2 linked regions of the Homo sapiens genome follow. The protein of the gene in region 1 purifies or fractionates together with the protein of each later gene. This does not show direct contact. Each region holds a gene or a part of one and is shown in the gene's direction. Other genes may lie near its edges. The genes, in order: DMC1 and SVIP.

Evidence for each region.
Region 2: the proteins of DMC1 (region 1) and SVIP purify together in Homo sapiens (affinity purification with mass spectrometry; 2 studies listed by BioGRID and IntAct, with this or other methods). This does not show direct contact.

What each region holds. Positions count from the first base shown.
Region 1 is NC_000022.11:38,556,487-38,572,987, reverse strand, and holds the start of DMC1 (meiotic recombination protein DMC1/LIM15 homolog), read left to right. Parts: upstream 1-2,804; 5' UTR 2,805-2,945; intron 2,946-3,597; exon of another isoform or gene 3,598-3,913; intron 3,914-4,578; exon of another isoform or gene 4,579-4,698; 5' UTR 4,699-4,731; coding exon 4,732-4,782; intron 4,783-5,360; coding exon 5,361-5,405; intron 5,406-6,251; coding exon 6,252-6,398; intron 6,399-10,618; coding exon 10,619-10,701; intron 10,702-16,501. UniProt on the Homo sapiens protein: Participates in meiotic recombination, specifically in homologous strand assimilation, which is required for the resolution of meiotic double-strand breaks.
Region 2 is NC_000011.10:22,825,122-22,841,859, reverse strand, and holds the start of SVIP (small VCP/p97-interacting protein), read left to right. Parts: upstream 1-12,058; 5' UTR 12,059-12,111; coding exon 12,112-12,165; intron 12,166-12,248; exon of another isoform or gene 12,249-12,505; coding exon of another isoform or gene 12,506-12,565; exon of another isoform or gene 12,566-12,603; intron 12,604-13,985; coding exon 13,986-14,036; intron 14,037-14,539; coding exon 14,540-14,653; intron 14,654-16,738. UniProt on the Homo sapiens protein: Negative regulator of the ER-associated degradation pathway (ERAD) of misfolded proteins. It competes with AMFR/gp78 for binding VCP/p97, and inhibits AMFR/gp78-VCP/p97 complex formation that is required for degradation of ERAD substrates.

The sequences.
Region 1 (16,501 bases):
AATTTTAATCGACTCTTTACAAACAGCAGTCATTTTAAACCTTTATGTAGCCAGGGGAAGAGCCACTAAGAGGTACAGGTCTCAGCAATAGGCTACAAGTACCTTATTCTTAAAGGGAAATTATTTGAAATTGGAGATAAAGAAATGGAACACTGCTGGATGCAGTGGCTCACGCCTGTAAGCCCAGCACTCTGGGAGGCTGAGATGGGAGGATCACTTGAGCCCAGAAGTTTGAGACCAGGGCAACATGGTGAAATCACATCTCTACAAAAAAAATACCAAAAAATTAGCTGGGTGTGGTGGCTTGTGCCTGTAGTGCCAGCTACTCAGGAGGCTGAGGTGGGAGGATCGCTTGAGCCCGGGAGATTGAGGCTGCTGTGAGCCAAGATCTTACTTACCACTGTACTCTAGCCTGGGTGACAGAGGGAGACCCTGACTCAAAAACAAAAAGCAAAACAAAACAAACAAATATTTTTAAGGGGAATTCTACCCAGTGAAATTTGTACGTGATGAGCCTTCATTCTTTAGTTCTCTACTAAAGCATTTCTCAAATTCAAGCTCTTGAAATTTCAAGAATATGTATCAGCAAGCATCACTTTGTAGAAGCCCAACTATACGCGCTGGAATCCTGTGCCTCTATTTGGTTATAAGGTGACTGTCCACGGAGGGGCAGTAAAGTGTAATAGTTTAAAATTCAGGTCTTAACTATAATCCCACTGCCTATTTTTTTATTTCTAAAAATATCATAAAAAGACACAAAATTTTAAAATTGTGTAGAGAAATTGTGGACTTCCTGAAGGATTTGAAAAATTAGGCAAGCTATATTATCCAGTTAATAATTGACACAAAAGCTCTGGTTTGCCATGTTCTATATTGTGGATAGGAAAGTACCATTTTGCCATGCAGGATATATTTTTTTAAATATAAGCATACTTAACAATCTTTCATGGCTTCTGAGTTTTGTAGCATACTTAAAAAGATGTTTCTTATTACAAAGTAATTTTAAATATCCCATATTTTCTTCTAGTACTTTTATTATTTTATTGTTCAGATTTAATTTTTTGATCTGTCTGGAATTTATTTTGGTATAATGTGTAAAGTGTGGTTCCAATTTTATTTTTCTTCCAGATGGTTACCTAGTTGTTCTAACACTATTCACTGAATTCATCATTTCTCCACTGATGTGAAATGCCACCTTCATGATATTCAGAGTTTTTGTATGATACGAAAGACAATTTTTTTGGTTCCGATTTTAGTGGAAAGTCTTCATGTGCACTTTTTAACTGTCCTAGAGTTTGTTGTTGTTTTAAATATCTTAAAAGTTGTCTCTAACCATCGATATGATACCCAGATAAGATTTTTCTCCTCCCTTCATGAATTTGTCATTACCCAGCTCATTTTAGTTTTTTTAAGTGTACTGCACACAACCTTCAAATATTATGAACATTTCTCTCTCCCAGCTGTCACTACACCAAACTACATATGTTATATTTCCCTAAATCATCTTGCTGTGCTCTTTGCAGCTCTTCTGTAGACTGTTGATGTCTTCACCTAACGAGTTGCTCAAAAGTTCCCATAATTATTTAGGTGAGGCCTCAGAGCGAAAGCCTTTCACCACTATCCAGTTCCTCCCCCAAATGGGCATTCATCTCCATATAACAAGGACGACTGTGTTTGGGGGAAAATAACAGATTTGGAAGCACAATGGCAGTTATTTGTTGGCTCTTAAAACAATCCACCTGTTGGGGGGGTGCGTCCTACACAAAATGCCAACTGCTATTGTGGGAATGTTTTGCTATTTATTCCACCAAAATGATTCAGACAGAAAAAACAAAAAGGATCGCCCTGTACTAGGTCTTGAACCCAAAGAACTGTTTGCACAGAGATTCATCCAAGATACATCACAGCCTCCACCTCGGCAGCTGCTCTCTCAAATGTTTCCTGACTCTCCCCAAGTCAGTCTCCGCGTGAGGGGAGGAGGAGGATGCTGCCAGCGATGGCGCTGCTGGCACGAAGGCTGGCCTGCGACTTCTATTTAAAAGCTGAACCAAAATATACTTGGCGTCTGTGGTCTATTTAAAACTTCAAGTTAAGACAGAGAAAAAATTACTCTCCATCCTGAATGGGCCTCGGGTGTCTCAATCACAGACAAGAGTGGCAAATGGTGAGAGTCAGAAAGTGGGAAATTAGGAACGCTGAGGGAGCACGGCCAAACTCTGAAGCCAGCATGAAAACCTGGAGGTGAAAAGAGAAGCCATGGGCAGCGGGGGCGGGGGGAAACGGGCCCGGATTCGACCTTCTAAGCCAAGGCTCCATCTGCAACCCTCGCGACCAAGACCTATCGCCAAAGTCAGCCACCTCTGCTCATCGCCCCTCCCCCGACTCAAGGCTACCTCCTCAGAACCCCGCCTCAGGGTCTTCTCCCGGACTTTAGCGAGGTGCTCAGCTCGAGGGACGCCCCAGCTCAACGGTCTCCCTTCAAGGCCCCGCTCCTCAGCGCGCTCCTTCCACAGCGCCCCTCCCTCCCTCCCTCCGTCATCCCAGCTCGCCACCCGCTGGGGCTCCTCTTCGTTTTCCGCGCCTCAGCCCTCGCCCCGCCCCCTCGCCCTGAGCCCCCTCCAGGCCACGCCCTCTGGTCCCCCCACCTGTGAGCCCGCTCGTTCCCCGCCCTTCGGTCTTCGCCCCGCCCCCATTGCTCCCCGCCCCTCGTCGCCCTCTGTAGGCCTGCTCCCTCCCCGCCCTTCCACCCTCACCCTGCGCCCCGCCCCGGCCCCTTGGTCCTCGCCCCGCCCTCCTCGTTTGGCGCCAAACCCTGTGGTCAACGGCGCGCGGGTCTCCAGGCTCCGTGTTCTAGGCCCGAGTTAGAATCCTGTCAGCTGAGGAGGTCGGGCGGGGCAGAGGGGCTTCACCTTGAAAATCTCGGGGAGACTGTGGGTACGAGGGGGGTAAGTGGCAAAAACGAACAGCGTGCGAAGACTCTGAGGGGACGCTCGTTTTGAGAAGGCGCGCTTCCCTTTCTCGCTCCTTTTTTGGGGTCCCTGGGCTAGTGACTTTGAGCGTTCCGCTCCGACCTTTGGGGAGGAATTTTAGTGATCTTGAGGGATTTCCAACCTCATTTTCAATCGAATCGGACCTGAGTCTAGGAGAGCCCGCCTCATCCTCCTGACCAGGGAATCCGGTGTCAGGAAAATGTCCGGCGGCCGCAGGGGGTCTGCCCAGGCCTCCTGCTGAGGGAGGCGTCGAGGGCGACCCGACCGCGCTGCTGCCCCCACCAGAGGGGACAGCTGGGTCGTCTTAAACCGGGGGATTGGGGAGCCCTACTTTCAATCCAACGGTTCAGTCTATCAACGGCTCCTTGAGAGATGGGGGACAATCTTTTCATTTCATCACGGGGAGAAGAAATGAATGCTGTTTTTCTCTTCGATGGGGACAGTAAATGTGGAATTGGGGTACTCATAGCTAGCCATCTGAAGGACAGTGTCCCCGAAGATCCCATCCGAACGGTCTCGGTTGCCTTCCATCCTTTGCCGTTTGAGGTGCTGGGTGGTAGGACCCTGCTCCTGCCTTAGTATTAATGGTTCGTTCCCTTTGTTCTAGGGTCCAACCCCTGACTTTGGTATCAAATGAGGAAATGGAATCGACCAAGAAAAATGATGATTTGGACCGCATTTTATTGTAATAAATAAACACAATCACGCCTTGTGGATTCCTGAGATTTCTTTTTGAGTCTACAATGTTAAAAACTTTAACTGCTTATCAGCCTTAATATAATATTATGATCCACCAATTTTTTTTTTTTTTTTTGAGACTGAGTCTCGCACTGTCGCCCAGGCTGGAGTGCAGTGGCATGATCTCGGCTCAGTGCAACCTCCGCCTCCCAGGTTCAAGCGATTCTCCTGCCTCAGCCTCCCAAGTAGGTGGGATTACGGGCGCCCACCACCACGCCCGGCTAATTTTTTTGTATTTTTAGTAGAGACGGGGATTGGCCAGGCTGGTCTCGAACTCCTGACCTCGTGATCTGCCTGTCTCGGCCTCCCAAAGTGCTGGGATTACAGGCATGAGCCTCCACACCCGGACCACCATATTTTTAAATCTTAAAAAAATCATGAAACTAGTAAATACTGTGAAAGAAAGTATAGCTAATGTTCTATGAAACAAAAAGGTGGATGTTACAGGAGTACCCATTCATAATCAGCAGGCAGGAAGGCATTCATCATAGATGAGAAAAATAGAATCCATTTATTGAGGACAAAGTTGGAGGTGTCAGGGAGGACACAAGGAAGAATGATATAATGTCAAGGTTCCTAGAGTATTGTTGTTAAACATAAACAAGAAAGGTTAAAAGCAATATGCAATTCTAAATAACATTCAAGGCAGTAATAAAGTCATGATTAGCTGTGCAATGGAAACCAGATGATAAGTGATCACTGTTGGGGAAAGAGAAGAAACTAAATAAGCACCCCCCAATTTGCCCCTCAGGCATCTGTGTGCATGTGGGGACACACACACACATGCACACACACACACACACACACAAGAAATAATGTCACATGTCTCGCAGAAAGAAGATAGGCTGGCCTCATCTTTCCAAGCTAAATGCTTCTCTTACTGTCCTTCTAGTCCTTGTTGACTTTGAAATGAAATCAGAGGCCCCTGGACAAAGGACTACTTCTTACATAATATTTCTTATTTTCCCAGAAGTGATTATTTTTCTGTTGCCCACTTTTCAATATGAAGGAGGATCAAGTTGTGGCGGAAGAACCAGGATTCCAAGATGAAGAGGTATGACTAAAATGTTGAAAGATATATAGACATTCGATCATTCCGCAAAAATCAAGTTCCTTCCCTGTTAGCTACTATTTTTAGAAGCTGAAAGTAGAAATAACACATAGTTATATATTGCAAATATGTAACAACTTGTTTGGCAAGGATGCTAAGATTAGCTACTTAGCAACTGGTATGAAAGTATTTTAATGACTTAACAGCTGGTATGGCCATACTGGTACCTACACACACGGGTACCGAATAGCAGCCTGGTCCTAGAGGAAGGAGTTTAGGATCTGGAGGGGAAGAGGGTTGAGAAAACATATTTAAAATAGTTCAAATGTTGTTCCAGTCCTTTGGGTAAAGGTTTTAAAATTTTAGGGAGGACATGACAAAGGTAACTGGCTTCCCAGCCCTTTCAATGTTGGTGCTTCTTCTGTGTTTGAAAAACGGTATTGATCCTTCCTCAATCTCTAGAGAAGCGGAATTTGAGGCATTTTGGAGTGACTCATAGTATTGAATTACCTCTTTAAAAGATGTGAAATAGCTGGATATGAAGAATCAAAACTTCATTTTTTCTGTTTCATCTCCTTTAGGAATCTTTGTTTCAAGATATTGACCTGTTACAGAAACATGGAATTGTAAGTAGTTTTTCAATGCTGTGTTAAATTGTCTGATTCAGGATTTCTCAGCATCAACCTTATGGACATTTGGGCCTGGATAATTCTTTGTTGCAAGGGGACGTCCTGTGCATTGTAGGGTGTTTGCAACATCCTTGGCCTCTACTCACTCACTGCATGTCAGTAGCACCCCTGCAGCTGTGACAATCAAAATGTCTCCAGACATTGTCAAGTGTATCCAGAGGACAAAATTAAGTTCTATATGTCAGGCGACTGGAATAAATGATGTTGGCAGAAATCCAGCCTTTGAATAATGACCTGGGTGGATTTCAACAGCAATCAGTTGATAGTAAAACTGTGCTGACATTATCTGTTGTAGCCCTAACATTTAATCTCTTTCAGTGGTTTTAGAAAATAGAAGCAAGAGAAAATCCTGGTCCTTTGGTGATGTAGTTATTTGCATTCTCCAGGGGCAGAGGAAAAAAAAAATCTTTACAAATTTAAAAGAACATGTTGGTAATGAAGTTCTGTAGAAGGAAGGAGCTGAACTGAGGGGGTGAATGTGTGATAAATTTGTTAGCTTTTCCACCAACAGGCTTTTCTTTTGAATTCCTTGTTACATTGCCATGGTCTCACTAACATTCTTGGGAAATCAGGGCACAGTCAGAACATTTGGCAGCCTGCTGAGTATGTTCTACTCAGATATTTCCAGAACATTTGGCTACATGGTGGGTGGGTTCCACCTGGCAGCTTGTATAAAATTGGCATCATGGTGGAAGGAGATGGACACAGAAACACATGACATAGTATGGGAGCCTTGCAGGCTGGCATCTTATCAGTCTGCTGTGCCCATTCTTTAATTTACAGAACGTGGCTGACATTAAGAAACTGAAATCAGTAGGAATCTGTACCATCAAAGGTATACAGATGACAACAAGAAGAGCTCTATGCAATGTCAAAGGACTCTCAGAAGCCAAAGTAGACAAGATTAAAGAGGCAGCGAACAAACTAATTGTAAGCAAAATCCATTCTTTGCTGTTTTAGCTTGGCAGGGCCTTGTGAATCTTTATAGGCTTTCTCATGAAAACTAGAAATTATTGTGGGAACTGAGTTCCTGTAGATCACAGTATATTATACTCCCCATGTTAACTTTTTATCACTTCAGTTTCAAAGCAACAGCAATTGATTTCTGAAAGATGAAGGTAGGGATTAAGAGACCTGGAACACTAATGAAGGTAATTATTTTTGCCAAAACTTTTTGTCTCTCTTTATATTACTTTTTCTGGCTGTCTCTGCCTTTCCTTCTCCTTTCCTTTTTTTTTTTTTTTTCTGAGACAGAGTCTTGCTCTGTCGCCAGGCCAGAGTGCAGTGGCGTGATCTCAGCTCACTGCAACCTCCACCTCCGGGGTTCAAGCGAGTCTCCTGCCTCAGCCTCCTGAGTAGCTGGGACTACAGGCACACAGCACCACGCCCAGCTAATTTTGTATTTTTAGTAGAGACGAGGTTTCACCATGTTGGCCAAGATGGTCTCAATTTCCTGACCTCGTGATCTGCCTGCCCTGGCCTCCCAAAGTGCTGGGATTACAGGCATGAGCCACCATGCTCGGCCTTCATTTTTATTTTTTACCTTTCTCCTCCTCAGTTTTGTCTTGTCTCCTCAAATATCATACCTATGGCTGTTGTGAAGCACTGAGTACCAAAGAAGTTGCTCTCTCCTGGTATAGGAGATTGATATATAGCCAATTGATATAGCCAATTGATAAGAGAGCACTGGATTAGAAAAAGACCAACAGTGGTTGGGTCTACATATGTGCAGTTGAGATAGATATGACCAAGCATGTGCTCACTGAAGCAGCTGAGCTAAGCTAACCCATACTGATGCAGGGCAGGTGAGCCCCCAAATTGAGGCTTAACCTGGGAGGGTTCTTGGCTTTGCCCAAAGGTGAGCCAGTGGTGTTGGACAGCAACTTTTGTTGAAGCAGCCCAGTACAGTGCAGCAGAGGTACTGCTCCTTGCAGAGCAGGGCTACCTCATAGGCAGTATGCCCAGAAGTAGCAGCTCAGAGGCAGTTTTGCCATTATAGTTATACCCACTTTTAATTACGTGCAAATTAAGGGGCAGTTTATGCATAAATTTCTAGAAAAAGTGGTAATTTCTGGGTCATTGGGTCATTGCAATGGAAAGGGGCAGTAACTTCCAGGTGTTGCCATAGCAATGGTAAACTGACATGGCACATTGGTGGGCCATGTCTTATGGAAAGTTGCTTCTGCCCTGGACCCTGTTTTAGCTAGTTCTCAATTTGGTCTGGTGTCTGAGCCCCACCTCTGGAGTCAAATCCCCTCTCCTACCTTACTACTTTCTAGCAGGGCCCACTGACTGTGAGGGGCCTTTGCAACTGCCAGGCTGCCAGACAAAAGCCTATATACCTTTGACCCAAGCTTTTATGTAGAGCTTTTGGGAATCACTAGAGGTACCAGCTCTTGAAATAGGAAAGCAAAGAAAGGTAGTCACTAAGTCTTCCTCTTCATTTAATAGCAGGCCTCTCCATTTCTCTATTGGTATGTGAGGGTCTCATTCCCAGTGAGTCTGAGAAGCTCTCTTCACCAACGGCCATTTGGTTTCCTTCTTCAGAGGCAGCCAAGGCAGGAGAGTGATGCAAGTGGCAGTGTGATCCTGAACTTGGAGGGGACTCAACCGAACTGAATCACTCTGAACCCAGCTCAGTTGCTCTAGCTTCTGAGTACACTCAGGCAGTGTACCCACAAGTCAATTCCACAACTGCCAGGGTGTTGAAGAAAGCCCTGGAGCAGTACTCAGGGTTTGGGAAACTGCTCTATGACATTAGAGTTGTTTTCTTTGGAAATTAAATCTTATTACCAAAGAAAAGAACCTCTCTCTTTCTCAAGCACCCACTACTGCACCAAGAATCTTCTCCTTTCTTAGCTTAAACTGTTTATTCTTTTTTATTTGTATTTTTTAAGAGACGGGTATCAGGCCAGGTGCAGTGGCTTACGCCTGTAATCCCAGCACTTTGGGAGGCTGAGGCGGGCGGATCATGAGGTCAGGAGTTCAAGACCAACATAGTGGCCAACATAGTGAAACCCTGTCTCTACTAAAAATACAAAAATTAGCCAGGCATGGTGGCAGGTGCCTGTAGTCCCAGCTACTTGGGAGGCTGAGACAGGAGAATCACTTGAAACTGAGAGGCAGAGGTTGCAGTGAGGCAAGATCACGCCACTACGCTCCAGCCTGGGTGACACAGCGAGACTCTGTCTCAAAAGAAAAAAAAAGAGAGAGAGAGAAGGGTATCTCACTATGTTGCCCAGTCTGGGCTTGAACTCCTGGGTTCAAGTGATCCTCCTGCCTCTGCTTCTGAAGTACATGGGACTACAGGAATATGCCACTGTGCCCAGTTTTATTTATTCATTTATTTTTGAGACAAGGTCTCACTCTATCACCCTGGCTGGAGTACAGTGGCTCAATCACAGTTCACTGTGGCCTTGACCTCCCAGGCTCAAGCGATCCTCCCACCTCAGCCTCCTCAGTAGCTAGGACTACAGGCATATGCTACCATGTCCAGCTAATTTTTAAAAATTTTTGTGGAGGCCGGGCCTGGTGGCTCACGCCTGTAATCCCAGCACTTTGGGAGGCCGAGGCAGGCGGATCATGAGGTCAGGAGATCGAGACCATCCTGGCTAACACAGTGAAACCCTGTCTCTACTAAAAATACAAAAATATTAGCCGGGTGTGGTGGCAGGCGCCTGTAGTCCCAGCTACTCGGGAGGCTGAGTCAGGAGAATGGCGTGAACCCAGGAGGTGGAGCTTGCAGTGAGCTGAGATCGCGCCACTGCACTCCAGCCTGGGCGACAGAGCGAGACTCCATCTCAAAAAAAAAAAAAAATTTGTGGAGATGGGGGAGGGGTGGTCTTACTATATTGGCCAGGCTGGTCTTGAACTGCTGGCATCAAGCAGTCCTCCCGCCTCAGCCTCTCAAAGTGCTGGGATTACAGGTGTGAGCTACTGCACCCAGTTGTTTATTCTTAGAGATAGAGAAAGTGATTGAGAGAGAGAGAGAGACAGAGAGAGAGGAGAGAAAGAAAGGAAGTTAATTTCATAATACGGTGGTTCTAAACACTGATGTGTATCAGAATCACCTGGTGTGGCTAATAAAGAAAACAGAAGCCCAGACTTGGCTCACTCAAGTAGGATAGGACCTGGGCTTGGCTGTCCCCATTCTCCAAGTTCTCCAAAGTTTAAGAACCACAGTCATAGTATAAAACAACAAAGAGGGACACCCATTAGACTACATTGGGGCCCATTTTCACTAGTCCTCCACTGCATCAGCTGTACCTTTTTAATCAGTCAATAAGTAGTATATCTACCATGTGAAAAATGTTGTCTCAAGAATAATGAAAACTGGAATTTCTGTGCCCCTTGAAACTTCTACAGCTGGAAAAAAAATGATGCTGTTGAATGAAAAAAAGTGAATTGTTAGTAAAATACCCTCTGCTTTATGCCATAATTATATCTCATTTGGCTGGGCACGGTGGCTCACGCCTGTAATCCCAGCACTTTGGGAGGCCAAGGCAGGTGGATCACCTGAGGTCAGGAGTTTGAGACCATCCTGGCCAACATTGTGAAATCCCATCTCTACTAAAAATACAAAAAATTAGCCGGGCATGGTGGCAAGTGCCTGTAATCCCAGCTACTTGGGAGGCTGAGGCAGGAGAATCACTTGAATCCAGGAATATGTGTATATATATGTGTATATGTATATATGTGTGTATATATGTATATGTATATGTGTATATATGTATATGTATACACATATATGTATATATGTGTATATAACGTGTGTATATATGTGTACATGTATATGTGTGTATACATATGTGTGTGTGTGTATATATATATAATTTAATTTTCACAGCTACTCCTTGAAGAAACACTGTTGCATGTTTGACCCAAAAGAGGAAGCTGATGTATAGCAAGATTAAGTAGTTTACTCCATATCATAGAACTAATAACTATTAGAGACATGATTTGAACCTAGAAAGGGCAGCTCTAAAGCCTGTGTTCCTAACCATAATCTTGTACTGCCTTCAAGGACAAGTGAACTGTAGCTTATACCAAATGATGATCTTAATAACTGAGTATATCATTTTGGGCAACATTTGAAAATACAACCATGATCTTTAAACTCTTTTTGAACATTTCCTTTTATCTTTCTGTAGGAACCAGGATTCTTGACTGCATTTGAGTATAGTGAAAAGAGGAAAATGGTTTTCCATATCACCACCGGGAGCCAGGAATTTGAGTATGTATCTTACTTTTTTATAATCACTAAGCATAATCTTTGGAATACCATGTTTCTTTTCCTCTTTCTGGTTACTTCTACTATAAGTAGTAGAAGTAGCTTCTTCATTTGAAGTTTGGGTTTGTTTGTTTTTTTTTCTAAATGATAACTGAAACAAATTCTAGACTGCTTGGAGGAGCAAGATTAAATGTCTTACAAGAAATTCAGACCCAAAATCTAGTTTCTGAATCAGCCAATATTAATCTCAAACCACTTTTAAAAATCAGTTTAACTTTTCATTTACTTTCCTTCTCCATATGAAGGATGTTTCATTGCACATTTTGGGTTTACTCAAAAAGCAATTGTTAGATTAAATATTTCAGAAATATTGCAGTTATTTTTGCTCTTCTGCAGGAGAAGTTTTAACATCCCTTTTTATTTACTCTTTTATGATCCCCAAGACATATCATCATCTTCTCAATGCAAGTTTACTAAAATGTGGGTTTTTTCTCCCTACCTTACTAGAAAGAATTAGTGTTTCATGTGTTACAGCAGTGCCCAAGAGCATTTAGAACAAAAGCAGTATTTCCTCTAAGTATTTCTCAAAATGCTGGCCTCACAAGATACATTAAGAAAAAAAGGATTTCATAGTCAAATATACCTCCACTTGAACGTCTAATTGATAGCTCAGACTTCACAGGTCCAAAAATCAAACTTCTGACCTTTGCCCCAAATCTGCTTCTCCCAAAGTCTCCCTCATCTTAGATCTATCTCTTTCCTGATCCTCTGACCTAAAACCTGGGTGTTATCCTTGACATCTTTTTTCTCTCACACACCCTAACTCTAACCCATTAATAAATCCTGTCTGTTCTAATTTCAAAATATATTTAGTCAGAACAAACCTCCCAGTTTCCTCAACAAATAAATTACAAGGAGGAAAAAAGAGATGGAGTCAGGGAGAAGACCTATAGATTAAAGAGATTTAAAAGACATATCACCTGGCCGGGTGCAGTGGGTGACACCTGTAATCCCAGCACCTTGGGAGGCCAAGGCTGGAGGTGGGGAGGGGATCTCTTGAGATCATCCTAACGGCAAACTGAGACCTTGTCTCTACAAAAAAAAAAAAAAATTAATTAGCTGGGTGTGATGGTGCACACCTGTAGTTCTAGCTACTCAGCAGTCTGAGTGAGATAGAAGGATTGCTAGAGCCCAGGAGGTTGAGGTTGAGGCTCTAGTGAGCCGCGATCATGCCACTGCACTCTAGCCTGGGTGACGCAGAGAGAAACCTTGTCTGAAAAAAAAAAATTAAGGAATTACTAAATTTAAGTGTGATAGTGGGAATATGGTTGTTAAAGATGAGAGTCTTCATCTTCATCTTTTAGGGATACATACTGAAATATTTATAATGAAATGATATGTTGCTTAGTATATGCTTAAAATAATATGGGAAGGGAGGTAAATGGTTAGTGGTCTATATGAAAAAAGATTTACCCTGAGTTCATAGTTGACGATTGTTGAAGCTGAGTGATAGACACGATGGTTCATTATTTTTTTTCTACATTTGTTTATGCTTGATATTTTCTATAATAAAAGATTAATATATAATATATGTTATTTTTATGTGTATATGTGTGTGTGTACATAGAGAGTGAGAATATAATTCAACTATTTCTTACCACCTCTACTGTTACCTCACTGGACTAAACTACCACCTATTAATATCTCCCCTGGATTATTATAATAACCTCTAATTAACCTCCCTCCTTGAGACCTTGCCCCTACTGTTTTGTTTTTTTTTTTAATTCACTAAAGAGCCAGAATGGTCACTTTAAAACATAGGTTAGGCTGGAATGCAGTGGCTCATAACACCCTGATGATTCCCCCTCTCACTCAGAAAAGAAGCCAAAGTCCTCTCCCATCTCTAATATTTCACTTTTCTAGTTTTCTATGTACCAGCCATAGTGACCTCTTTGCTATTCCCAGAATATGTCAGATACACTCCTGCATCAGGGCCTTTGCACTTTGTGCTGCCTCTGCCTATCATATTCTTTCCTCTTAGATCTACATGGCTTGCTGTCATCTCTTTCAGGTCTTGGCAAAAATGTCCATGTCTCAATGAGAACTTCTCTGATCACTTTATTTGACAGTATAACCTCCTAACTTTCATACTCTGTCTTCCTTGTCCCCTTTCCTGGCCTTATTTTTATCCATACCATTTAATAACATCTGATGTACTACATATTTTACTTATTTGTGTTTATTTTTTATTTTATTTATTTATTTTTTTTTTCAGACGGAGTCTTGCTCTGTCACCCAGGCTGGAGTGCAGTGGCATGATCTCAGCTCACTGCAACCTCTGCTGCCCAGGTTCAAGCGATTCACCTGCCTCAGCCTCCCGAGTAGCTGGGATTACAGGTGCCCGCCACCACGCCCGGCTAATTTTTGTACTTTTAGTAGAGACAGGGTTTCAGCATCTTGGCCAGGCTGGTCTTGAACTCCTGATCCCATGATCCACCGCTTCAGCCTCCCAAAGTGCTGGGATTACAGGTGTGAGCTACCGGCGCCTGGCCTATTTGTGTTTATTATCTAATCTCTCACTAGATTGTAAACTTCGTGAGAGAAAAAAATTCTGTCTCTTTTGTTCTCTAGTTTATCCCAAGTGCACAAAACAATCCCTGGCATAAACTAGGTGTGCAATAAATATTTGTTGAATGACTAAATGAATGAATAAACAAATAGTGAATAAGTTTGAGAAGTACCATATACTATATATTCTTCTTGAAGAGTCACAGCGCACACTAGCCTGTGAAATCCTGCAGTGACACAAAACACCTGTTTTGGCAGGGCACGGTGGCCCACACCTGTAATCACAGCACTTCGGGAGGCCAAGATGGGTGGATCACCTTAGGTCAGGAGTTCTAGACCAGCCTGGCCAACATGGTGAAACCCTGTCTCTACTAAAAATTACCAAAAAAATGGCTGGGCACGGTGGCTCACACCTTTAATCCCAGCGTTTTGGGAGGCCGAGGCGGGTGGATCACTTGAGATCAGGAGTTCGAGACCAGCCTAACCAACATGGAGAAACCCCGTCTCTACTAAAAATACAAAAAATTAGCCGGGCATGGTGGCATGTGCCTGTGGTCACAGCTACTCGGGAGGCTGAGGCAGGAGAATCGCTTGAACCTGGGAGATGGAGGTTGTGGTGAGCCGAGATCGTGCCACTGCACTCCAGCCTGGGCAATAGAGTGAGACTCAGTCTCAAAAGAAAAAAAGAAAAAGAAAATACCTGTTTAACCCAGCATTGTCCCAGACTTTTAAAATCACATACCCTTTTTTCAAGTAAAGTTAAGGAAGAGGCTTGGAGAAATCCTACCCCTAGGCAAATTGGTCAAAATGAGGTTGATCAACAAAACACTTGATTCAAATGACAATCTGATTTTCTTTAGTTACTCTACCACATGGTGGTCTAAGAACCACTGGGCTAAAGAAATAATTACTGTTATTGTGAGTTTTCTGGTGCCCTTGATGTTTGCTCTTGAGAACAGAAAAGATCATTCAGGAGCTAGGTTTTTTTTTGTTGTTTGTTTGCTTTTGAGACAGAGTCTTGCTGTGTCGCCCAGGCTGGAGTGCAGTGGCATGATCTCGGCTCACTGCAACCTCCGCCTCCTGGGTTCAAGCAATTCTCCTGCCTCAGCCTCCTGAGTAGCTGGGACTACAGGTGTGTGCCACCACACCGGGCTAATTTTTGTATTTTTAGTAGAGACAGAGTTTCACCATGTTGGCCAGGCTGGCCTCGAACTCCTGACCTCAGATGATCCACTTGCCTCGGCCTCCCAAAGTACTGGGATTACAGATGTGAGCCACTGCGCCCAGCCAGGAGCTAGGTTTTTAAAAATTAATATTTAATTAATTAAAATATTATACATTTTTCCTTAAGCTTTAAGTCCCTTTATAAATCTAGCACATTTTAAGGGTGCTTTTATAACAAGATTAAATTCTCTTAAACATTTTAATTATGTTTATACATTTAGTGTATTGTATTTTCTTTAAGAACTTTATTTGTTGGCCAGGTGCACTGGCTCACACCTGTAATCCCAACACTTTGGGAGGCTGAGGCGGGTGGATCACAAGGTCTCTACTAAAGACAGGATCACCCTGTCTCTACTAAAAATACAAAAATTAGCCGGGCATGGTGGCGGGTGCCTGTAATCCCAGCTACTCAGGAGGCTGATGCAGAGAATTGCTTGAATCCAGGAGGCAGAGGTTGCAGTGAGCCAAGATCACGCCACTGCATTCCAGCCTGGGCGACAGAGTGAGACTCCGTCTCAAAAAAAAAAAAAAAAAAAAAAAAGAACTTTGTCTAATTATCTAATTATTAACAGCAAAATCTTCCCAATTACCTAAATATCTTTTGTAACTCAAATAAATTTAGAAGTATAGTGAGTTGTAGGCACCATTAAATGTTCAAATACTATTTATAAAATTAGTTATCAACTTGAAAATTGAAGGAATGTACCATTTAATCAGTCAGAGGCCAATCCATTACAAAAAGGTCAAATTATCTTAAACGTTAAAAGGTCTCAAATAGCAAATATGCACAGGTTATTACCAAATTTATTTATTTATATTCTATTTTATTTTTTGAGACACGGTCTCACTCTGTCACCCAGGCTAAAATGCAGTGGCTCCATCACGGCTCACTGCAGCCTGAGTAGATGGGACTGCAGGCACAGGCCAGCATACCTGGCTAATTTTGGTATTTTCTGTAGAGACTGGGTTTCGCCATGTTATCCAGGCTGGTCTTGAACTCCCAGGCTCGAGCGATCCACCTCCCTCGGCCTCCCAAAGTGCTAAGATTACAGACATGAGCCACCATGCCCATATTGCCAAATTTAATATGAAAATAGTAATCTATGGGTTTGATTTGTGTCTCTATTTTTAAATCTCCCTATATTTAAAAACACTATTTCTACACTTAATTCTAAATTTTCCTGAGTCTCAAAAAGGAAACAATTGTGCTATCCCAAATAATTTGGGGTATCCTCACAGGTAAATTTTGGGGTTACCTTTTCAGCTGATTGAGATTACATATCAACCAGGAATTTTGTCTGGGATTTTCCAGAGGTATAGCTTTCCAGGGTAATTTTTCTCAGGAAGAAGAGGGACAAATAAAGCTTTCTTTAATAGTTGCTAGCCCAACCACCATGGCACACGTTTACCTATGTAACAAACCTGCATATCTGGCACATGTACCCCTGAATTTAAAATAAAAGTTGAAGAAAAAAATAGTTGCTGGGCCTATAAGATTTCCAAGTGTATTCCCTCCAAATGGGTTGATCGCTTAGCCCATGTCCTTTAGATTTAAGTTGTGCAGGTACACTATCTAGATTTTTCTTTTCCTTATTGAAGTCTGCAGCCCTCACTAAATTTGTGGATAACTTCCAACATTGTTTCAATTTACATTTAAATTGCTCTCTTAAACTATGTAAATGTAAATGTATTGGATTATCTATATATCTTAAATTTTTGTCTGACCTGTGATCACATCCCAAAAAATCATGTTAATAGACTACATACAAGGTTTTTAAAGTGCCCCTACCAGGTCTTAGCACAATTAACACAATTAATATGTGTTGCATTTAATGAATGAATGAGATCATGACTTAAATTTAGGCCTTTTCTTATTCAGAGCTTTAAATGCACTACAACATTGGGCTACCAATTAAATGTATGCTGTCAGAATCTGACAGTTACTCTTCTAACTGCTAGCATTACCTACAACATCTTTGACATTTACTATTCTGACATGTCCTCCATAATA
Region 2 (16,738 bases), on another chromosome or scaffold:
TTGTATGAGATGGGTGTAATTTCTTAAATGTTTGGTAGAAAACACCAGTGTACCCATCTGGGACTGGAGAATTGCTTATAGAAAGATTTTTAATTACAAATTCATTTATATATATAAATAATATATATATTTCAAATTATATATGTAAATATATATTTCAATTATATATATTTCAAATTATATATGTAAATATATATATTTCAATTATACATATATTTCAAATATATATTTGTTCAGATTTTCAATTTTGATCACTTCCAACATTTCTGCTAATGGTTATCTGTGTCTTTTCTTTTTGATCACTCCATCTAGAGTTTATTAATTGTATTGATCTTTAAAAATATAATTTAAAGCTGGGCACGGTGGCTCATGCCTGTAATCCCAGCACTTTGGGAGGCCGAGGCAGGAACATCACGAGGTGAGGAGATCAAGACCATCCTGGCCAACATGGTGAAACCTTATCTCTACTAAAAATACAAAAATTAGCTGGGCATGGTGGCACATGCCTGTAATCCCAGCTACTCGGGAGGCTGAGGCAGAAAAATCGCTTGAACCAGGGAGTCAGAGGTTGCAGCGAGTAGAGATTGTGCCACTGCACTCTAGCCTGGCGACGGAGTGAAACTCCATCAAAAAAAAAAAAAAAAAAAAAAAAAAAATATATATATATATATATATATATATATGTATATAATTTAGAGTTTCATTTATTTCTTCTGTTGTTTCTAGTTCATTATTTCTAGTCACATTTTCATAGTTCCTTCCTTCTACTTAATTTGGCTTAATTTACTCTTCTTTTCCTATTTTCATAACATACAACACAAGTTCAATTTTATATCTTTTTTTCTCATTGAGAAGAGCTATACCTGTTCTTTTAAGCACATTTTAGCTGTATTCACAAATATAAAGTGCATTTTATACTGAATTTTTATTCATTACAAAGTATTTTCTAACTTCCATTGTGAGTTCTTCTTTGACCCATGCATTATTCACATCCTTGTTTAATTTCCAAATGTTAGCAACTTTCCAGATGTATCTGTGCGATTGATTTTTTCATTAATTTCATTTTGGCCAAAGAACATATTCTGTATAACTTTAATCCTGTGAAATTTACTAAAACTTACTTTATGACTCAGTAGAAGGTCTTGTTTTTGTGTTGCAAGGTGCACTTGAGACAGTATGTGTTCTGTTGACATTGAGTGAAATATTTTATAAATGTCAATCAGGTCAAATTGTATAATAATGTTAAGTCTTCTGTATTTTTACTTATTTTCTTTTTGTTGCGTCAGCTTACGAGAGAGGAATGTTTATTTTCCAAGTATAATGTAAATTTGTCTATTTGCTCTTTGAGTTCTGGAAGATTTTGCTGGATATATTTTGCTTTGTTGTTGGGTGTATATATTTATGATTATTATGCCTTTGTGATAAACTGACCTTTTTATTATACGTGTTCATCTGTATACCTGATAATATGATTTATTCTGGACTATTATATGTTCTAGTAATATACTCATTTCACATTTTTTAAGATTCATGTTTGCACACTATTATTCAATCCTTTTATTTTTAACCTATAATTGTTCATATAGGCATACCTCATTTATTGTGCTTCACTTTATTGTGCCTAGCAGATATTGTTTTTGTTACAAATTGAAGGTCTGTGGGAACCTTGCATCAAGTAAGTCTATCAACACCATTTTCCCAAGAGCATGTGCTCACCTCTTGTCTCTGTGTCACATTCTGATAATTCTCACAATATTTCAAACTTCTTCATTATATTAGTTATGGTGACCTGCAATCAATGATCTTTCATAATACTGTTATAAATGTTTTCAGGTGCCATGAACCATACCCACTTAAGATGATGAATTTAATCAATAAATGTATGTGTTGACTGCCCTACTGACCAGCCATTCCTCAATCTCACTCCCTCTTTTCACAACCTTCCTATTAACTGAGAGAAAACAATATTGAAATTAGACCAATTAATATCCCTACAATGGTTTCTAAGTATTCACATGAAATAAAAAGCTAATGACTCACTTTAAATCAAAAATAAAAAAAATTATTAATCTTAGTGAGGAAGGCATTGTGAAAGATTACAAAGGTCAAAAGCTATGCCTCTTGCACCAAAGAATAAGCCAAGTTGTGAATGCAAAGGTTTTAAAGGAAATTAAAAGTGCTACTTCGGTGAAGACACAAATGATAAGAAAGTGAACCAGTCTTATTGCTGATACAGAAAAGGTTTTAGTGGTCTGGATAGAAGACCAAACAAGCAACAATATTCCTTTACACCAAAGCCTATCCAGAGCAAGGTCCTAACTCATCAATTCTAAGAAAGCTAAGAGAGGTGAGGTAGCTGCAAAAGAAAAGTTAAAAGGTAGTAGAGGATGATTCATGAGGTTTAAGGAAAGGAGCTGCCTTCATAACATAAAATATCATAAAGATAGTGAAAGTAGGCATCCAAACATGTTATAGGTAGAGTCAGAGGACAGTAAACAACCTAAGCAGCCAAAAACGTCACTACATGCACCATCATATGCTTTGATCAGACTCACAATGTGTTTACCCTCCTTATCCAGGGTCATTTGAACCTTATGATAAATCTTATTTGAAGATTTTAATAAATAGTCTCTCTTCTGGCCAATTTATCTCCATAGGTATAACATCCTGAGAAGGGTATAAATCAAATGCAAGGAATGCCTGGTCCTCAGTGTCTAAATTGTTATAAACTTGTTAACAGTAGACAAATCTATTTTTCCTACCATTTTTGTATTGCACCATATACTGACTGGTATTTGGGAGAGAAGAGGAAGTTTTGTCACAGGAGAAGTCAAATAATTCTACAGTGGTTTTTTGTGTTTTTGTTGTTGTTGTTGTTGTTGTTGTTTTTGTCCCTTGGCAGGACTCCCTATGGCCAAGGGCCTTAAGAGACAAAGGACATATAGCCAATTAATTGTTCTAAGCCATATAGGAATGGATGTGGACAGGCACTTGTTACTTCGTAAAATTATTATTTTAAGTAAAAAAGCCAACAACAAAACAAAACAAAACAAAAGTTAAAAGACGGACTTATTTTTAACTTCTATGTGTTGAGCTACTGTGAGCTTGGTTTTTGTTACAGACTTGTAACAGTTAGCCTTATATACCAAACATAAGCATTCTTCTGAAAAATATAGTTACATAGATAGATAGATAGATAGATAGATAGATAGATCGATCGATCTTCACAACTCATGATTGGTAGTATTATACCCAGGAGGCTTTGTTACAAAATATTTTTATCCTGTTAGTAAAGAATTTCCTTTAATTCTATAGTAAGCAGAAAATTTTTATGGTTGGGGTGGATGCAAAAGTGACACATAATAGCTTAGAAGGCAACTAAACTTGTTTTACCTGCTGTTTAGGCATTTTTGTACCCCCTTTCTTGATTTGGAGGGTTTGACCTTAAGCTAATTTTTTCCCTGAAAGCCGGTCCTTACAATCTTATGCACCCACCTCTTCTGCAATAGTCCAGGCAGCTTGTATAGTTTTGGCAGCAGAACATTAGCAGTGAAACAGGTCCAGGCCCAGTGGGATGCCAAACGAGGGAGATTCATACCTCTGGTTTTCAAAATACCATGATTTTGGTTTCCTTGGATGTAAAACAAGGAGAGATAATTAACATTTATAGTTTGACAATTATAGGAGTAATTCATAGATCAGAATAGAAAAAGGAACCTATTACATTAGGGTACCAACTAAAAATATGAAGAAAAATTATAACTTGGTGCTTTCTAGAGGATTCTTGTAGCCAAGAAATAATGATTTAATCTGTACTCAAAAAGTTAGGGCTGAAATCTAGTATTAAGTGTTACGCTTTACCCTTGAAACATTTTTTCTAGCTGCCCTTTTTATTAAACAAAAAGTTATAGCAAGGCCAATTTGCGTGCAAGGTAAGTTTTAGGCTTATTATGCTTGCCTGAATAGCTGCATAAAATGCAGCAAGAATTGATTGGCCATATAGACTCCTTTCGAGTTGGTTTTGCTGAAAGTTTACCTAAAAATAGAATATTTTAGTTTCAGTCTTGGTAAAATAACCAGTGTCTCCAATTGTTTGAAGAAAAAAAAAACTATAATTGAACTTAGGCAGACAACTATATTGTCATAAAATTCAATCTGAATTTTGGAGGACTCAGAAAGGTAAGTTTGCTTACAAAAATGTACTTTATCCAAATAACTTAAAAGATTTTTTTTTTTTTGACCCTTCTTTAACCAGAGCCGCAGCTTTTAAAACAAGTGTTTGTTTACCTGGGAAATGCCATTTACAAACCAAACAGCTAATGAGAACTATTAGGCACTGTAGAATTTAGCAGCTCCTCACAATTAGTCCTAGAAAAGAGGCTCTCTGCTTATTAAGTAGCAAGATTTTGTGTAAGCCATTTTTATTTTATCATAGGACTCTTTTGGGAAACATAATTTCCATTAGCATAGGGGTAGCTTCAGTTAATATCTCATAGCAAGGCAGTAAATGCCCTATCAAGTAGAAATTCTCTAGTTCGGTCATTGTCATTGAAAGGTACTCACAGTTTTTTCCATCAGCCCCGATAAAAGCTCCACATAAAGGGCTATGCAGCAAAGGAAAGCTTTACCCTATATTTTGTGGGCTTTTACTAGTTCCTATTTAGTGTGTTTAAATAACATTTTTAAATAAATAAATTTAATAAATGTTTAAATAACATTTCCTAAAGAGCCGATTTATATGTCTTCAGTTTTTATAGTACTAGAAAAGAGAAAAACAACCCCCAGTTAGATACAGTACCCATTTTCATAAGACTTTTTGGTAAAAGGGGGTTACAACTACCTTACATAAAGCTTGTTTAAACATCTTAAATTTTATAATTCTATTAAACTGTATGTTTTTATGTTCAGGTCTCAGGAACCCTTTTTTACCCCCAGACCATTTTACCTTTTCTGGTGAAAAGGATTTGGTTTCCCAGCAGGGAGTTACATCTATAAGACCTATGAGGGACCGCAGATTTGATAAGTCTACTTAAATAGTCCTGTCATTCTGTCAGAGGAGCACCCACGTAAAGGGGGTCCCCTAACCCCCAAATTTACCATGACCTAGGTAATATGCATATTTGGCAGGAGGATATCCCAGTTATAAAGCTAGTCCAACATGGCTTGCATATGAAACATATTAACTGCTTCATCTGGTGTACTTCACTTGGTATTTTATAGGAAGAGTGGGGCAGTCAACCCTTCTCAGGGCAAAGAGAACTTACAATGGCATTATCTGGCCCACTAGGCAGGAATAAACATGAAACTACTTGATCAATAAATGCAAACAAAATGCTAACATTGTTGATATTATTTTACCAATAGTTTTAAAGCCATCTTATTTATTAAAGATTTTACTTAAGTCATGTGAACCTGAAAAAATATTTGACTAGTCTTTTCTTTTTTAAGTCTCTGATTTAAGCACTTTTACCTATTTTTTTAGCCAATTAATTGGAACTCTTTACATATATATATTTTAGCAGTGAAACACTGCATAACATAAATACATGGACATATCTAGGCATGCCGATAGAGGTACATTTTATAGATTCATAAAGACTTCCTTTTCCTTTTTTTTTTTTTCAATTTTAGATTTTCAAATTCTCGATAACATGTTGCACCACCCTAAGCAGTTTTCAGCTAAATAGACATAAATTTGCATATTAAAGGAAACAACCCAGGTGACAATCAGATAGCAAAATTTACGTAATAAGGTACAAAAAGAAAAAGTTTGGTACGCTAAAGGAAAATTAAAATGAATGTAACTTCCAATTAAACATAAAATTATAGAATTTATGAAGGCCTTCAAATACATACACACATATATACATACATATACGTACACACACAAAGATCCTATAGATTTACTTTAGTACTTTGGCCATGAGATGAATATAAATTTGCCGGTTTGCAAAAAAACGGTTAGATCCAAACAGTGGTTTTTTATCTCAGTATGAAAGTAACACCAGATTTAAAGCAGGCAGAAAATAGAGAAAGAGAACTTAGGAACTCTATAGTTTGCAGGTCGACCTTAGGCACCTTTTTCCTTAAAGTAAAATGTACACAAAGACTATATTACTTCCATTTTCCATAAACTCTGGAAAGTAGAGGTGCCACAAAACCTACGGTGTGCTCAAAAGGGGGTCATTCTCCTTGTTTTTTTTTCCATATTCTTAGTTAATTTCTTTCCTACTTTTTTTTTTTTTTTGAGACGGAGTCTTGCTCTGTCGCCCAGGCTGGAGCACAGTGGCGCGATCTCGGCTCACTGCAAGCTCCGCCTCCCGGGTTCACGCCATTCTCCCGCCTCAGCCTCGCAACTAGCTGGGACTACAGGCACCCGCCATGACGCCCGGCTAATTTTTTGTATTTTTAGTAGAGACGGGGTTTCACCGTGTTAGCCAGGATGGTCTCGATCTCCTGACCTCGTGATCCACAAGCCTCGGCCTCCCAAAGAGCTGGGATTACAGGCGTGAGCCACCGCGCCCGGCCCCTACTTTTTTTTTTTTTTTTTTTTTTAAAGGAGGAACTGATGAGTCGTGGATGAAAATGACAGTTCAGTTCCTCACTCAAATATGCACAAACAAGCCAAATTGAGATTAATTCTGAGAGAAAAGCAATTGAGGAGACCCTTTAGAAATGCATCTTTGAACTCGAATTGGGATCCTAAAGCAACAAATTCCTAGGAGAATAAAACAGCTCAGAATACATCAAGGACTATCAACCAAAACAGGAGGTCCGAGGCTCAGGAGGACTTACCAGTTCCACAGGAGGAGAAGCCCAAACTCGGTGAGGCTTCAGTGGGCTCCAGCTGGTACCTTAGCTCTGGTTTTGGGATACTCCTTCCGGATCCAGAGTCTTCTCTGAGGCCCCACGTGTTTGGGCGCCATATTATTGTCGACAAAAAGAGTGGAACTCTGTAAAATATTTGAAGAGATTTATTCTGAGCCAAATATGAGTGACCATGGCCCGTGACACAGCCCTCAGCAAGTCCTGAGAACCCGAGGTGGTTCAGCGCAGCTTGGTTTTATGCATTTTAGAGAGCATGAGACATCAATCAAATACATTTAAGAAGTACATTGGTTTGGTCCAGAAAGGCAGAACAACTCAAAGCAGGAGCTTCCAGGCTATAGGTAAATTTAAACATTTTTCTGGTTGACAATTGGTTGAGTTTGTCTGAAGACCTGGGATAGATAGAAAGGGAATGTTCAGGTTCAGATAAAGATTGTGGAGACCAAAGTTCTTTTGAAGTCTTATAGTGGCTGCCCTTAGAGGCAACAGGTGCCCAATGTTTCCTATTCAGCTCTTAGTTAATCTCTTTAGGATTGGGAGGGTCTGGAAGAAAAAAATCTAGGTATGTTAATAGAGATTCTTTACAGCTGCACATTTTCCCCCACAAAGAAACGCTTTGGAGGGTCATTTCAAAATATGGCAAAGAAACATGTTTTTGGGTAACATATTTTAATTTTCTTCTTTGTCTTGTAATGTTATGCCAGAGTTAGGTTGGAAAGTAAATCATGATATACGGGGTTAAATAAAATCCATCTGATGAGAATTTATGATTTGTAGGGCATGACTCCCCAGACCCCTTAGATAGGGATTTGGGCAAGATAAAAAAATTAAGAGTTCAGTCCTCATTTCCATACATGTAAAATATAAATAAGTTATTCCATTTTTAGGTAGTCAAGACAAAAAAAACTTCACACAAATAACTGCACACAAATATTCACGGAGCTTTGTTCATAATGGCCTGAAAAGACTCAAAGGAGCCCATACATCCATGAATAGGTAAATTGACATTTTGGGGGTTTTGGGGGGTTGTTGTTATTGTTTGTTTGTTTTGAGATGGGGTCTCACTCCATTGCCCGGGCTGGAGTGCAGTGGTGCAATCATGGTTCACTCCAGCCTCGACTTCCTTGGGCTCATGTGTTTCTCCACCCTCAGCCTCCCCAGTCACTGGGACTACAGGCACACACCACCGTGCTCAGCTATTTTTTGTATTTTTTGTAGAGATGAGGTCTCTCCATTCGACTTCCTTGGGCTCATGTGTTTCTCCACCCTCAGCCTCCCCAGTCACTGAGACTACAGGCACACACCACTGTGCTCAGCTATTTTTTGTTATGTTTTGTAGAGATGGGGTCTCCCCATGTTGCCCAGGCTGGTCTCAACCTCCTGGGCTTGAGTGATCCTACGTCTTCAGCCTCCTGAATAGCTGATACTACAGGCAAGAGCCACTGTGCCCCCTGGTAAATTAACTTTTTAAATGTAGCATACTTATAACAATGTAATATTAAGAAGCAGACACAGTAACACTGATGAATTTCAGAAACTTTATGTAGAAGGAGCAGAGCCAGACAAAAGAAGCACTTACGATATATTTCCATTTCTATGAAATTTTAGAAAGTGTGTAGTTAATTAATAGAGACAGAAAGCAAATCAATATTTGTCGTGGGCTAGAGGTCAATGGGGGATTGTTTGGAAAGTGGCACAAGGAAAACTTTTAGAGTAATGGAAATGTTGTATACCTTCTTATGGTGTTTACAAGAGCACATATAATTGTCAAAAACTCAACTAATATCCAAGACAATTTGCACCTGACAGAGTTAAACAGCAACAAAAGACTTTATTTAAGACCACTGTAATAAGGCACAGAAAGAGGGCTCAATGCCACTGAAAAAAAAAGCAGGAGAGATTTTAAGCACAGAAGTCCCTAAGTGGAAAAGTACTGTATGTTGGTCAATAGGGTTAGACCATCTGTGTTTGCTGATTGGTGCTTAGGGAAGTCAGGCTCCTACTCTCCCACAGAGATTAGGAGATAAAAAAAGGTTCTACCTTTCTTAATTATTGAATTTCAAAGAGATGACACCCAGGTTTTTGAGAAAGATGGTTCTGCATTGTAGAACTGATAAGAGGCCAGAAGATTTACATCTTAAAGGAGCAGAGAAAATGTACACTTTGCAAGTTTTTTTTAAAGTGAATGGTCTAAAAATAGGGAGGTCAGAGGCCAACAATCAGGAAGAACCCTGTCTAAAGGTTAGTCAGGCAGCAGGAAACATTAGGCCATCTTGGTCAGTGACTGTATCTGCACTGTTTTTTTCTATACGTAATACCCATGATAAAGTTTAATTTATAAATTAGGTGCAGTAACAGATTAACAACTAATAATAAAACAATTATAACAATATGCCATTATCACTAATTTTGCACTTTGGGTCATTAATATGTAAAATAAGGGTTATTTGAACACCAGCACTGTAATACCAACAGTTAATGTGACAACTGAGATAGCTACTAAGTGACTAATGGGCGGGGTGGCTTAGACACTGTGGATACGCTGTACAAAGGGATGATTCACATCATTCACATCCTGTGTGTGATGGATTAGGACAGCCTAAGATTTGATCAGATACTTAGAAGGCAAGCAATTTATAATTTACAAATTATTTCTGGAATTTTCCATTTAATATTTTTGGACCTCAGTTGACCATGCAGTTGACAATACATGTGCAAAACATATATTGTATATTTCATTTATGTAAAACTTACAGATTATAGTGATATTAATGTTGAATAAATAAACTGAAACTTTATCAAAACCAGGAATGGAAGGCACTACTGTACACCTAAAGTAGATGTGTTAATTGTATTTTATATCTCAATAATGTTTATTAAAAATAAAAATCAATAAACCATGGAAAGTGTTGGGGAAATAATTATGTCATGGAAAGTGTTTTGATAATAATTAAAAACAAAATCTGCCAATGCAGGAAACTCTCCACAAATGCAGAAAAGAAACAGTTTTATCATTGAATAAGCATTAAATCGATTGTGATTTCTATCAGAAGCAATCTACTAAAGAGTTTGCAATGAAAACATTCTTCACCATTTTTATATAGCCTGTCAGATACAGTCCACTACACACATGTTAATTGTTTTTATCTAAAAGAAATCTAAAGGAAAGAATAACACTTGTATCTCTTGACAAGCAGAAAGCTCCATCTTGAAGCCAAGTGCCTAGACAGTAAACTACCATGAAGACGGGGAGACAGGTGCCACTCTGGGATGTTTTCATTTCTAAGAGAAAGCCAATAGGCCTCCAAAGATATTCTGAGGATACAAAACTGGCAAGAGGCTTATTTAGGTTCTTTCTTTCTGATGCAAAACTGGCAAGAGGCTTATTTAGCCTCCCCTGCCCTCCCCTCCCCTCCCCTCCCCTCCTCTCTTTCTTTTCTTTCGACGCAATCTCTCTCTGTTGTGCAGGCTGGAGTGCAGTGGCGCGAGCTCGGCTCACTGCAACCTCCGCCTCCCGGGTTCAAACGATTCTCCCTGCTCAGCCTCCGGAGTAGCTGGGATTACAGGCGCCCACCACCATGCCTGGCGAAGTTTTGTATTTTTAATAGAGAAAGGGTTTCCCCACGTTGGTCAGGCTGGTCTTAAACTCCTGACCTCAGGTGATCCACCCACCTTGGCCTCCAAAAGTACAGGAGTAAGCCACCATGCCTGGCCTTTTTTTTTTTTTCATACATTTCAGTGAGACAGAGATAGCGCTTACAATTTCACGTTTTCTAAACACAATGCTAAAGAGGAGGTGGGTAGTTATCTTTCTCTTTTTGCAACAGAGAACCTTCACTTTTTCTTTATATATTTTTATTTACCCTTAGAAACGGCCCATGCAATCGAATAATAGTATTAAAAAAGCATCATCCCCTATTATTTAAGGAATAAACTACTGTTTCATTCAATAACATGGAAGAATTTAGAAAATATTATGGCTTTTGCAAAACATATTGTATATTTCATTTATGTAAAACTTAAAGACTATAGTGATATTAACATTTATGCAAAACTTAAAGACTAAAGTGATATTAAACAAATTAATAGTTTCCTGGATCTAGGTATAGGATAAAGTATTGAATGGGATTGGGTACAATAGAAGGTTTTTGGGTGATGGAAAACTTACATATCTTGAATGTGGTGATCACATGTTTGTTAAAACTCAGTGAACTCTACAATCAAAATAAGTGCATAATATTATATGTAAATTATACATCTATAAAAAATTAACCAGCAAGTATATCAAAAAGCCGACAATGGTTTCTGAGACGCTGTCACTATACATCCTACCTTTTTGTAATGTTTGAAAATTTTTACATAAGCAGAAATAACTAATAGAATGCAAAAATAAAATAAAATAAAATAAAAGCATTTGTGTGGAGACGAGATCAGTAACTTTAGTATCACCTGTGGGTTTACTGGAAATGAATCTCAGGTCCCACCTTATACTTACTAAATCAGCAAGTAAATTTTAACTAGTTGCCCAGCTGATTCTCATACTTATTAAAATTTGAGGAGAATCATTAAAACATTTCTCAGTAGATGAAACTTTATTATTTCTCTCGGAAGGATAAATGACTTCTAAATACCAGAAACTAGTGGAAATGTCAACTAATGCCACATTTATGACGCTAGATTCATCGTCATAATAATGGATTTTATATTCTGCCCTCTGTTCTGGAATAGCACTGTCACTAAGAAGGGAGAAAAGGGTGCTGATGTTTACTTGGAATTTTGGCTTTAATTTCTAGGACACCAGAGTCCCATCTCATAAAAAAAGGTAGCATGAACTACCCAGAGCTGTACCACTCATTCATTTATAAATGGTAAGGCAAGGTTAGCAGGAAGAGCTTTGGAACCGTAGCGAAGCTTTTCCATCCCTTCCCTGCATTGCTACCCACAGCAGGTGTTTCCTGGAACCTAGGCTTTGGCCACAAGCCCAGCGGTCGCGGGGCGGGGGTAGGCGGAGCTGTGGGTGAGGAAGGGGCAATGCCTTAAGGGGGCGCAGCTGAGCTGTGGGACTGGTTGGTGTCGCGAGAAGAGGGGGGCGTTGCCGCAGAGAGGCGAGGCGGGGCAGAGCTGCGGGGTGGGGGCGGGGCGTTGCCGCTGGGGCGGAGCCGAGCCAGTGGAGGGCGGTGGGGGCGGGGCAAGCGCGGAGGACCAGGGACCGGCTCCGGACCGCGCAGTTAGCGCCGCCTGGCCTGGGCCGGACCCGGTCAGGGTTCTCAAGCTGTCGTCCCTATGGGGCTGTGTTTTCCTTGTCCCGGGGAGTCCGCGCCTCCCACGCCGGACCTGGTGAGTAGAGCAGGTCCCTGCGTCCGCCGGGCCGCGCCTTGAGCACCTGTCCTCGGGTTGCGGGGCGGGCCGAGCCATTGTACCTGGTGGCGCAGGTCGAGAGCCCGCTGGGGGACCCTGCTAGCGAGGACGGGTGGACGCGTCAGGAGGGTCGTTGGGTCCTGTCAGAGCGACCTAGGCCGTCGCCTCCGTGTAGATCTCCACTTTTGTAACAAAAAGTTGTCGAAAGGCGGCTGTGGCGTCTTTCTACCTTCCACTGACTTTAGCTGCGCCGGATCTTCATAGGGCGCCGGCGCACGCAGAGGGCGTTACGCGTGGGACATTCCGGGGGATGTGGTAGATGGAATTCGGCGCGAAAAGACATTGCTTTCTCCGGGAGCTCTTTAGTCGTCTAGGAGATGTGCGTTTTCAACTGTGTCTACCATCTTTTAAAAGAAGGTGCTCGGAAAGTCGCTTATACGCCTGAGCTTTATCGGATATGTTTTTTTAATGATTTCTTTTTAGTATTTATCTCATTCTTTTACGTTCTCCCTTTAAAAGAATATGTAGTACAGAGTGTCCAATTTATAATGTCGTATTTAATAAAAATACTGGACACCCAGTTACATTCGAATTTCAGATATACAAGGAATACGTTTATAATATCGTTTTGTGCCATGCAATATTAGGGATCTAGTTCTACAAAAACATTACTCATTGCTTATCTGAAATTCAAATGTAGCTAGTGGGTGTGTGGTACAATACATGTACACTTTTTGTAGCTTTCTGTTAACAGTATCTTTACATTAGTACTCCTTACAGGGAGTTAACATAAACCTGTTTCTCTTCTCTAGCTAAAAATTAGTTGAAGAAAATGAAGTATTTTTGGGAAGTACATTAACTCTTCAGCTACTATAGATACTAAAAATTTAGTACTTATAAATTTGATGTGGGAAAGTTCAGCTTCTCTTTGTTGCTGCTGTTGTTTTAAATTAAGTTGATTTTGTTGTTCTGGCTGTCGATAAAATATAACATGTCAGATTTGTTAAGCCCTCCCCCCCATCCTCATACTATACCCTCTTCCCTTGATAACCACACGGCTCACTGCTTGGATGTCACTTTACCAGTGAAGCTTTTGCTGACCACGTTAAACAAAATATATTCCCCACAATACCACCCACCCATTCTCCCATTACTTATCTGCCATGCCATCTGACAGACGTTTACTTACTTCATTATATTTGTCTGTGCGCCCGCAATTGGAATTTGTTTCATTTGGGAGGAGACATTTATCTATGTTTTTACACTGTTGTATCCCAGCACCTAGAAAAAGGGCTTTATAATAAGTAGTACATGGTCTAGAAAAATAGCATTCACTGTTTTCTGATATGGAACAATACCTCTCATGAAATTACTCCAGTCCTTCCCTCCTACACACTGAGATTAGCCCACTTCATTTATTAACCTTTCCTAAAAACACCAGGTTACTTCAGACTCCATTTTAACCGGCAGTAACAAACCATGTATTTTCCTTTTTGTATTTGTAAACATTATTTGTTTTGTTATTGCCCTGACTAGCTTGTAGGCCTTTTTATTAAAAAAGAGAGTAAATAAATGATTATATAGGTAAACCTTGTATCTGTTTTAGCATGTGCTGATTTGAAGGCATATTGATTAGGAGAATGAAATTCAAAAAGTTGAGTAGTGGCATTCTTTGTGGGACATTTAGGGCCAGTACCGAATATTTTTGTAAATTGTTATAGTGCCTATGAAATAAATGTGAATAATTTATTAATAATAATGTTTGTTATTTTAATACATATTTTTACACATTTATTTAGGAAGAGAAAAGAGCAAAGCTTGCAGAGGCTGCAGAGAGAAGACAAAAAGAGGTAAGATTAAAGATCAAGTTTTGCCTACTTAGATAATTGAGTTTGGACTTTATTCTTCATAGATGTCCATAGCTAGATTTTCTAACGCAAATGGCCTTTGATATCCCAAAAATTTACATTTAAATGTAATTATTTTCAAAATGATTTCCTTATTTATATGAATTGCATTAATATATTTATATTAATATATGAAAACTATCATATCTTCTCTAAATTCAGATACTCTTTTAGTAACATCCTTCCTTTTAAAATGGCTGTGCATTGTAAAATACTTACAGATGTGAAGCAAGTTTAGGGGAAAATTTGTATAGTTACAAAATACCCAGTGAAGAAATGATGTTTTATGTAAGGCTGTTGTAGAAACACTCCTTCTATGTTACCAAAAATAAACCAACTCCCTACCCCCAAAGAAAAACCTAGAAAGCAAAGATAGACAAAAAAATGTTTTGCACACTGGACAGATTTTTGTTGTCTTTCTGTTTTTCTTATCAAATTTCTTCAAGGCTGCATCTCGGGGAATTTTAGATGTTCAATCTGTGCAAGAAAAGAGAAAGAAAAAGGAAAAAATAGAAAAACAAATTGCTACATCCGGGCCCCCACCAGAAGGTGGACTTAGGGTAAGTATTAAAATTTTCTTAGTGATTAACTTAACTGGCATTTTAAAAAAACTTAAGTAGCAATCCATTCATAATTTTCTCCTGAAATGTATTATCAGAAAATTTTGAAATAGTTTAAAAGCATGAGTAGTAAATATTGGAAGTAATACCAATTTATTTTAACATTTATTGGAATCAATTAGCTTTTTTCCCCAAAATGAAATAATAGATTTATTATTTTAACACTATATATATTTTAATACTCTTATGCTTACTACTAATCTTAAATAATTCAAAAATTCAAGCAATATGGAGAAGTATAAAGAAGTGTAAAAGTCATCCAAACTAAGTACCATTTTGACAGACATAATTTCTAACCTTCATTTATATATCTTATTAAATTGGATTACGCTATAAGTTCTGTTTTATGGCCTGAGCTCTTTTACGCATTGATTTGGAATCTTTGATCTTTCCATTGCCCCTGTTTATTATAGTTATGTAAATGTTAATTTGGATTACAGAATGTATACAGGTGTGGGTATCATACACATACCTCCCTAGATATGGATCCCAGAGCTAGACACTGGGAATATAATGGTGGACAAGTTAAGCAGAGTCTCTGAATGCTGGAGTCTTTACACTCTAGCAGGACTTTAAAGGATTTATTTTTAAAATCCCTTAAAGCTCAGGAAAATAATGGCTCAGATATTAAGAATTTATTCTTGGTCCATTTTTAAAGTAAATAGTAGTATATTTGTGAAAAGGACAATGTCTTTAATTTCAGTCATTTATATTTAACTTGTCAATGATTTATGAGTACCTTTCAACAGATTTATTGGTTTTTTTTCTCTCAAAACTACACACACACACACATGCACATACATATACATGGACATATACACATACACTTGCCTACATGTAGATACTCTCGTAACTTGTGGGGCAGGCAGTTTATGAACACCCTGAGCAGTTGATTCTGGCTCAAGAATATCACAGAAATAAGAATGTGTGTCTGTGTATTTTACTATTGTACGTTACTTCATCTTATATCATTTAACGAATGAAAATTTATGAAGTTTTTTTATGGTGAACTTTTAGCAATATATAATTAGTTTCAATATAAGGTAAATAAGTCTGACCATTTTGCTTATGTTTTTTATAATTCCATAATAGAACAGAATAGGTCTAGTGTAAAGTAAAACAGTTGGGTGATAACGAGGTCAATTCTTTATCATATCTCAATATTCTGTTGAGATAAAGTGCTGTTTCACTAGGTTTACTTCATATAGGGTTGTCAAAAACAAACACAAAATTACAAAAGTTAAATTGTAGGACTGGAAATAATGAGATCCACTATTTCACAGTAGAAGTGGTGAAGGTATTAAGTTAAAGTCATACGTAATGTTATAGGAAAAGGATAATTTAATCAACACTTAATCATAATTAAGAAGACACTTCACAAGTTCTAACCTAATGAAATTAACATCAGCTTTTAAAGTATAATAAAGAAAGAGGCTTTCTTAAACTTGAAGCTTCCACACTCTGAAGTCTATAGATTAAAAAAAAAATTTAGGCCTTATATTACTTACAATCCATTCAAAAGTGCTCAAAATGTAAAACATACCCAAAGTTAAATTTAGTTTCTGTTTTTCTTTGTGTACTGTTCTTGTAAGAAATCTCTCAAACTCACTTAGTAAAAATGACCTTCAGGACCTTGAAACTATATAGTGGCAGGAGGATTTTCTCCAGTGGCTCACTGTCATTAGCCACTGCTGTTGTCCACTGTGAGTAATTTTTCCTTGGAATATTCCTCATCACCTACCACTACCACACTAGCTTCAAGTGGCATGCTCCATTCTGCTTGACACATGCACAACATGTCAAGAGCATGAAGTGAAAAAATTCTGGAAGGCTCAGGGATAACAGAAGGGAAAAATACAAGGCAGAAGTACTTAACCCTCAAAACGCTTGGCCTATGGTCCTTTAATGGCTGCTGTCTGGCTTGTTTCATGGGCTGGCCTGAAGTATTGGTAGAGTCTTCCTAAGGTAGGAAGGTTAGGAAGACTCTTCCCTAGGTAGAGTCTTTCTGACCTGACTCTACCTAGA